Linked DNA regions of Homo sapiens. The protein of the gene in region 2 purifies or fractionates together with the protein of the main gene of each other region. This does not show direct contact. Each region holds a gene or a part of one and is shown on either strand. Other genes may lie near its edges.

Region 1 (3,500 bases), on a different chromosome or scaffold from region 2:
AAAGGCATGAGACCAATCTTTATGTAGCAACATACAAGGATTACACAACACACTGCTCAGTAAAAAAGAATGCGCGGTGGCTCATGTTTGTAATCCTAGCACTTTGGGAGGCCGAGGCAGGTGGATCACCTCCGGTCAGGGGTTCAAGACCAGCCTGGCCAACGTGGCAAAACCCCATCTCTACTAAAAATACAAAAATTAGCCAGGTGTGGTGGTACATGCTAGTAATCCCAGCCACCCGGGAGGCTGAGGCAGGAGAATACTTGAACCCAGGAGGCAGAGGTTGCAGTGAGCCAAGATGGTGCCACTGCACTCCAGCCTGGGCGACAGAGCAAGATTCCATCTCAAAAAAAAAAAAAAAAAAAAAAAGGAATGGAGATGATTGATGCTTATTTGAAACTCAATGCTAAGGTGGATGTGCCTCCACCCACCAGCATAGGGAAGTCCTTCAGATATAGGTGAGGCTGGGCTCACCCCTGGCACCTCTGATTTAGCCTGCTGGAGAAGCTCCTGCAGGCAACTGATTCTCTCGCACTCCCCTGGGAAGAACTGCTTTAGACAACCTGGCTAAAAATCCTCAAAATGCCCAAAAGCAGACAAATAGGAAAAAGGCATCTAAAAAGTCACAGACAACTCAAAAGAGACCGCCCCTGTCTCTCACGCACGGATTACTGTAAAGTGAGTAATCCAATATGCTTTCAGGCAAATTGGTTTTGAGGAACTAGGACAGCTCCCCCTGCCCAGGAGGCCCTGACCTCAGACCCCTTCCTCTGTCCTTCCTAAAACTGAATCACACTCTGCTTCTCTTTTCTGAGACTCTGTTTTGCCATCTGCAAAATGGGAATAACAACACTACCCACGTCTTAGGGTGGTTGAGAGGACTGAGTCAGATAGTAAGGGCAAGCACTTAGCGTGTGCTTGGCACATAGTAGGTGCTCAGTAAACAGCTGCCATCTCCTTAACATCATCTTCATCACTAGCATAGGTGCCACCAAGGAGGCTTGGGTTGGAGTCAAGTCTTCTGGGATGGGGGCCTGGAGGGGTCATGAGTGCAAGTACCCAGGGTTAGAAACTGGCAGGAAACACTAGGGCTGGGTCCCTGCGGGTAGCCGTGAGGCCGGCTCAGCAGATCCTTCTGCCCACGGGAGGCTGTGGCCACAAGGAATGGACGGCCAGGCCCAGCCCCGCCCAGGCGGCCGTCATACCTTTTCGCTACACTTTCTGATGGTGGCTGTGAGCTCACTGACTACCATATCCACACACTTGATACTGGGCTCTTTGAGCTTCTGCACCTGCTTTTTCACTGTGGCTTCAAAAGCGAGGTCAGGTGTGAAGAGGCCCGTCCTGCACCCGGGGAGGAGGTGGGGACAGGAGGAGGAGCAGCCGTGGGTGGGGAGGAGAAGTGGGTGAAAGCCAAGCAGAGACAGGAATCCAGGGGTGGAGAGGATGGCACGGGCACGGGGGAAGAGAGAGAGACATCGACACAGATAAAGAGAGAGAGAGAACAGAAGACAATGTGAGCGTGGGACCGGCCCTCCCTTGCCACCCGGGGTTGGCACCTCCCAGGTGCTGCCAAGCATCCCCTGGGCTCCATAGGTATGGCCAGAGGTACGAGGGACCAAGCCCCTGCTCCGTACAAGACCCCTATTGAGTTCAGATCCTCTTCCCAGGGATGCTCCCCTGCTCCTCGGCCTCACTGAGGCTGCCTGCTCTCTCCCAGTGCCGTCTTTGTCCACAGCCTTGGGTTCTCCTAAGGAGCTGACCCAGGCCAGGACAAGGCCAGGACCTCATCCACCCATCCTGTTCAATTCTACGTTTCCCAGTGTCCCAGAATTTGCTTCATCCTGACTCCAAACCTCAGTACCATTCCCTATCTCTAGGGTTGCCGCATCCAGCTGCCCAGGCCATGCACTGCACAACTCCAGGGGGGTCCATTCCCGTAAACCGTGGCGCAGAGGCTGCCTCCTAGGGTTGCAGTATAGCAGCCTGACCTCCCTCTCCAGCTCCCTGCTCTAGTCCCGCCCCTCCCTTTCTCTTCAAGGGGCATTCCTGGCCTCTCCTCCACAGGGGTTTGGTGGAACCAAAAGACAGAAAGAGAAGAGGAAAGACAGAAAGAGTAGAGGTAGTGATAGAGAGGGGCCGGGACAGCAGTGGGGAGAGGAAAGGAAGGGAGGCTGGAGGGTGGAATCGAGGAGCACTGGACTTGGAGTCCAGAGCCGTGGCTTCAAGTAACAGCTCTGCCACCTCCTGACTACTGTGACTTGGGCAAGCCACTTGATCTCCTGGAGCTTCAGTGTTCGTGCTGTGAAATGGGCACCGTCCTCCCTGTCCTGCCTCCCTGCGTGCTTCTGTGAGGCTTGGATGGTGGGGCAGATGGGAGAAGGGCTCTATCCCTGGAAAGCCAGATGTGGATGGAAGGGAGGGAGAGGCCCTGAGTGAGGGTCTTACGTGAGCATCCTGTGTGAGGGTCCTGAGTGAGGGTGAGATGAGTATGGGGAGGATGAAGGACAGCGGGGAGCCAGGGCACCTGCTAGTCCTGGGTCCTCTGCACCCCCTCTGGCCACCCAGGCCCACCGAGCAGTGCCCGAGAAGGCCCTGCATTTCACCTGTCTCCAAGGCTAAGGTTTCCCCAGACCCCTCCCTGGAGCTCCCAAAGATGACACCTCCGAGGACAGGGAGGGGGCTCAGGGTCCCCTCAAGCCCTATTCTCTGAGCTGGGGGAGCTCTTGGTGGGCTCTTGGGGTAAACAGCCAGCCATCATCCCCGTCTCACCCATGTCCAATCCCTGGGTCCCCAGACCTGGGGGCCAGGGGTGGGTGAGGCCCTCTCAGAGGCACATTGTCTCCTATTCAGTGGTGGCCTGCCTCCCCACCCCGCTGAGGTCTGTACATGCTACCGAGGAGGCAGGGGGGGACATGGGGAAGGAGCGCCTGGCAGCAGTGCAGGGCGGGGCAGAGGCGGTGGGGGCTGGCCCGGGCCTCCGGGTTACCTTCTTGGTGCACTGTCTAACGGTGCTGATTAGCTCCGAGATAACCATGTCCACACACTTGAGACACGGTTCTCGGATCTTCTTCACCTGCTTTTTCACAATGGTCTCAAAGGCCATGTCTGGGGTAAACAGCCCCGTTCTGAACGCCCGGAGCGGGAGAAGGGCAGAGTGTCACAGGCCAGTGCCGGCCAGGAGGGCCAGGCCGAGGCTCCTCCCCAAGCCCACGAACTCTGCCTGAGGGGCCCTTCCACTACCCCTCTCTGGGCCTCAGTGTCCCCAGTTGTAAAATGGGAGGGAGGGGTTCTAATGAAGGGTTTTTTGTTGTTGTTGTTATTTTTTTTGAGACGGAGTCTTGCTCTGTCGCCCAGGCTGGAGTGCAGTGGCGCAATCTTGGCTCACTGCAACCTCCGCCTCCCGGGTTCACGCCATTCTCCTGCCTCAGCCTCCCAAGTAGCTGGGACTACAGGCGCCTGCCACCACGCCCGGCTAATTTTTTCGTATTTTTAGTAGA
Region 2 (3,846 bases):
TTAGAAAATTCTGCGTCCTTACCCATTCACAGTGTGCATTATTAAAGACTGAAGAACTGCAGTAAGAAATTGCACTAGTTTCCAGGATGCCACACTCTCCTAGCTCCAGTCTCCTCTGCTCATCTCTCCAACTTCTCACCATTAGAATGCCCCCATGGCTCTGTTACAGGAACTCTTCTCTAGTTTCAGGCACTCCCTAGGTGACCTCATCCAGTCCCATGGCCTTGAAATATGAACTACGTCTATGCTTACATAACCAGCCCCATTCTTCCCCCGAGCTTCAGACTCAGACGTTCAACTGCCTATTCCACACCACTGCTTGAATGTCTAATAATTCCTTCAAACTTAAAAAGTTAAAACAGGGCTGGGCATGGTGGCTCACGCCTGTAATCCCAACACTTTGGGAGGCTGAGGCGGATGGATCACCTGAGGTCAGGAGTTGGAGGTCAGCCTGGCCAACATGGTGACACCTCGTCTCTACTAAAAATACAAAAATTAGCCAGGCATGGTGGTGGGCACCTGCAATCCCACCTACTCGGGAGACTGAAACAGAAGAACCGCTTGAACCCAGGAGGCAGAGGTTGCAGTGAGCTGAGATTGCACCACTGCACTCCAGCCTGGGCGACAAAGGGCGAAGCACCATCCCAAAAAAAAAAAAAGTCAAAGTCGAAACAGAATTCCTGATCTTCTCCCTACCTTACCAGATCCTCTTACAACTTCTCCCATTTCATTTAATGGCAATCCTGGCTGGGCGCAGTGGCTCATGTTTGTAATCCCAGCACTTTGGGAGGCCGAGGTGGGTGAATCACAAGGTCAGGAGTTCAAGACCAGCCTGTCCAACATGGTGAAACCCCATCTCTACTAAAAATACAAAAAATTAGCCAGGCATAGTGGCGAGCGCCTGTAACCCCAGCTACTTGGGAGGCTGAGGCAGGAGAATTGCCTGAGCCCAGGAGGCAGAGGTTGCAGTGAGCCAAGATCTCACCACTGCACTCCAGCCCGGCCAACAGAGTGAGACTCTGTCTCAAAAAAAAAAAAAAGACAATCCCAATCTTCTACTGCTCAGGCCAAAAATCCTGCACTCCCCTCTTTCTGTCACCCTAAATCCAATCAATCAACAACATCCTGTTGGCTGTACCTTCAAAATATATTCAGAATCTATTTGTGACCATACCCACTGTTACACTCTTGGTCCAAACCAACATCACCTCTTGTCTGGATTATTGCAATCCCTAATATCCTTGCTTCTATCCTTAAACTCTACAAGAACATTTTCAGCACAGAAGTCAGGGATCCCTTTAAAACCTAAGTTCATCTCAAGCTTCTCAATCAAACCCTTCCAGTGGTATTCCATATCAGAGTAAAAAGCCAAAATCACTACAAAGATCTGCAATGACATATATAATCAGCCTCCTGCTGCATCTCTGGCCCCACTTCCTACCACGCTCCCCTCAGTCATGCAGGCTTTGTTATTTCGTACCCACTAGATATGCATTCATTTCACAGTCTTATTCTTGCCTGGAATGCTCTTACTTAAGACACCTGAATGGCTCACTCACTCAAGCCCTTAAGGACTTTGCTCAAGTGTAACAAGAGAGGACTTTCCAACCAACACCCCCACCTCACCACACACCCTCTTCCTATGCCCCTTTCCTGCCTTTTTTTAAACTGTAGCATTTAATCATCTGCTTAAAATGTTTTAATAATTTTTTAACTGTTTATCTTACTAGAATACATACTTCGTGAGGGTAAAGGTTTTCGTGTGAGGTGTTCACTGTTTTATCCCAGGTGCCTAGAACTATGTCTAGCACATTGCAGGTTCTCAATAAATACTTTTACTGCAGACTACACAGTCGGGCAATATATGGATATAGATATTCTGAGTATGCCAAATTAGTTTCTGACTCGGGAGCCTTCATAATTGCTATTCCTCTGCCAGAATATCAGCCCCCAGATAAGTATGTCTTCCCACCCACTTCTTCACTCAAACAACATCTCCTCGGAGAGGCCTTTCCTACTACCTTATCTAAAATAACCACGCTGCCCAAGCATGCCCACACTTTCACTGCTTCTAACCCTGCTTTTGTTTCATGTTTCTTCATTGTGCTTACCTACCTGACACCACATATATAATTGTATCTTCCTCATTACAATGTAAGCTTGTTAAGCACAAAGGCATCATCTCTTTTTCAGTACTGTCTCTACAACACCTCTAACAATGCCTGACACATAGCAGGCACACAATAGTTACTGACTAAATGAATGAACACAATGCTTAAGTTGAATTTAGCTAGTCTTTCTATGACACAGCAGGAAATTCTACACTGGGTGGGAAGCTGAAGTAAATGCCCAACCCCTAGGATTTCTTCTATCACCACTCTTCTATGAAATAATTAAATGAGAGAGGCTAGGACCAGGTAGTGCCTTTGGAATGCGGAAGAACTACTGACAGATCATGAATAATTAAATAACATTAATTAAAAGCCATATTTTTTAATTACACAATTTTGCCATCCCATATACAAGTGTGTATGGATCCACTGAAGAGAAATAGAAAGGAAAAAGAGGAATGAAAGGAATCCACTGCAATAGACATCCCATATCATTAGAGTTAGAGAAGCAGAAGTTGCTAAGCTTCTTATCTTACAGAGCTGGAGTCCACTGAAGCAAAAGGATTTGTACATTGATAGAGCTAGAAATCAGAACCTTGGCATCCTCTCAATACCATGCTCTTCCCACTATGGCTTTGCCTCACTGGCAAAGTACAAACAATGCAAGAATCTAATGTGACACTAATAAGTAACCACATTCCAGAAAACAATGCGTAAAGGAAAAACAGGCAGTTCACTTAAGAAATACAAATACCCAGAAAAGAAAAAAAAAAAAAGAGGAAAGAATGCTCAACCACACTAACAACAAGTATTGAAACAATAAGTTATTTTTCAGCTGCCTCACTGATACAAAGCTGACAAAAACTCTGTTAGCTGAAAGCACAGAAAAACTGGTACACCCCTTCTGGAGGGCAACCTGACAATTATACCAAACATATGTATATCCTTCGAGCCAGCAATTTCATTTGGAGATATTCACTCAAAAAAGATAAATATAACGCTGCATATCAGCATTATGTAGCATAAACCTGGCTGTATATCATAAGTACCTAAATAATCTCACTCATCACTATTAATAAGCTAAAGGTTTTACTTTGAACAAACTGATAGACTGATAGAGGGAATTGTTTAGCCTTCAGAAATTTTTAATTAAATCATATGGAAATGAAAGTTTGAGAATAAAAGGAAAGCAGCGTAATAGCTAAATGGAGCAAAAGGATCATTAAAAATTTTTCTCAAAGGTAGAGGAAATCAAATTTGATAAAGGGAATAAAAATAGAGTCAGTGAAAAGGAAAATACTCAAAATGATAGGAAGAAGGAGGATGCAATATCCTAGAGCAGTGGTTACTTACATAGGTGAGTTATTAGGGAGGCTTTTTTTTTTTTTTTTTGTAATTATGAGACAGAGTTTCACTCTTGCTGCCCAGGCTGGAGTGCAATGGCACGATCTCGGCTCACTGCAACCTGTGCCTCCTGGGTTCAAGCAATTCTCCTGCCTCAGCCTCCCGAGTAGCTGGGATTACAGGCACCTGCCACCACGCCCAGCTAATTTTGTATTTTTAGTAGAGACGGGGTTTCACCATGTTGGTCAGGCTGGTCTTGAACTCCCAACCTCAGGTGATCCACCTGCCTTGGCCTCCCAAAGTGCTGGGATTACAGGCGTGAGCCACTGCACCCAGCGGGAAGCTTTTCATCATATCAAATCTCCAGGTTCCATTCTGAATTAGAATCTCC

The links. The genes of interacting proteins can lie anywhere in the genome.
Region 1: the proteins of CDKAL1 (region 2) and DNM1 purify together in Homo sapiens (affinity purification with mass spectrometry; one large-scale study listed by BioGRID and IntAct). This does not show direct contact.

Annotation. Positions count from the first base shown.
Region 1 is NC_000009.12:128,223,879-128,227,378, reverse strand, and holds part of DNM1 (dynamin-1), read right to left. Parts: intron 3,129-3,500; coding exon 2,990-3,128; intron 1,345-2,989; coding exon of another isoform or gene 1,206-1,344; intron 1-1,205. UniProt on the Homo sapiens protein: Catalyzes the hydrolysis of GTP and utilizes this energy to mediate vesicle scission and participates in many forms of endocytosis, such as clathrin-mediated endocytosis or synaptic vesicle endocytosis as well as rapid endocytosis (RE).
Region 2 is NC_000006.12:20,537,272-20,541,117, reverse strand, and holds part of CDKAL1 (threonylcarbamoyladenosine tRNA methylthiotransferase), read right to left. Parts: intron 1-3,846. UniProt on the Homo sapiens protein: Catalyzes the methylthiolation of N6-threonylcarbamoyladenosine (t(6)A), leading to the formation of 2-methylthio-N6-threonylcarbamoyladenosine (ms(2)t(6)A) at position 37 in tRNAs that read codons beginning with adenine.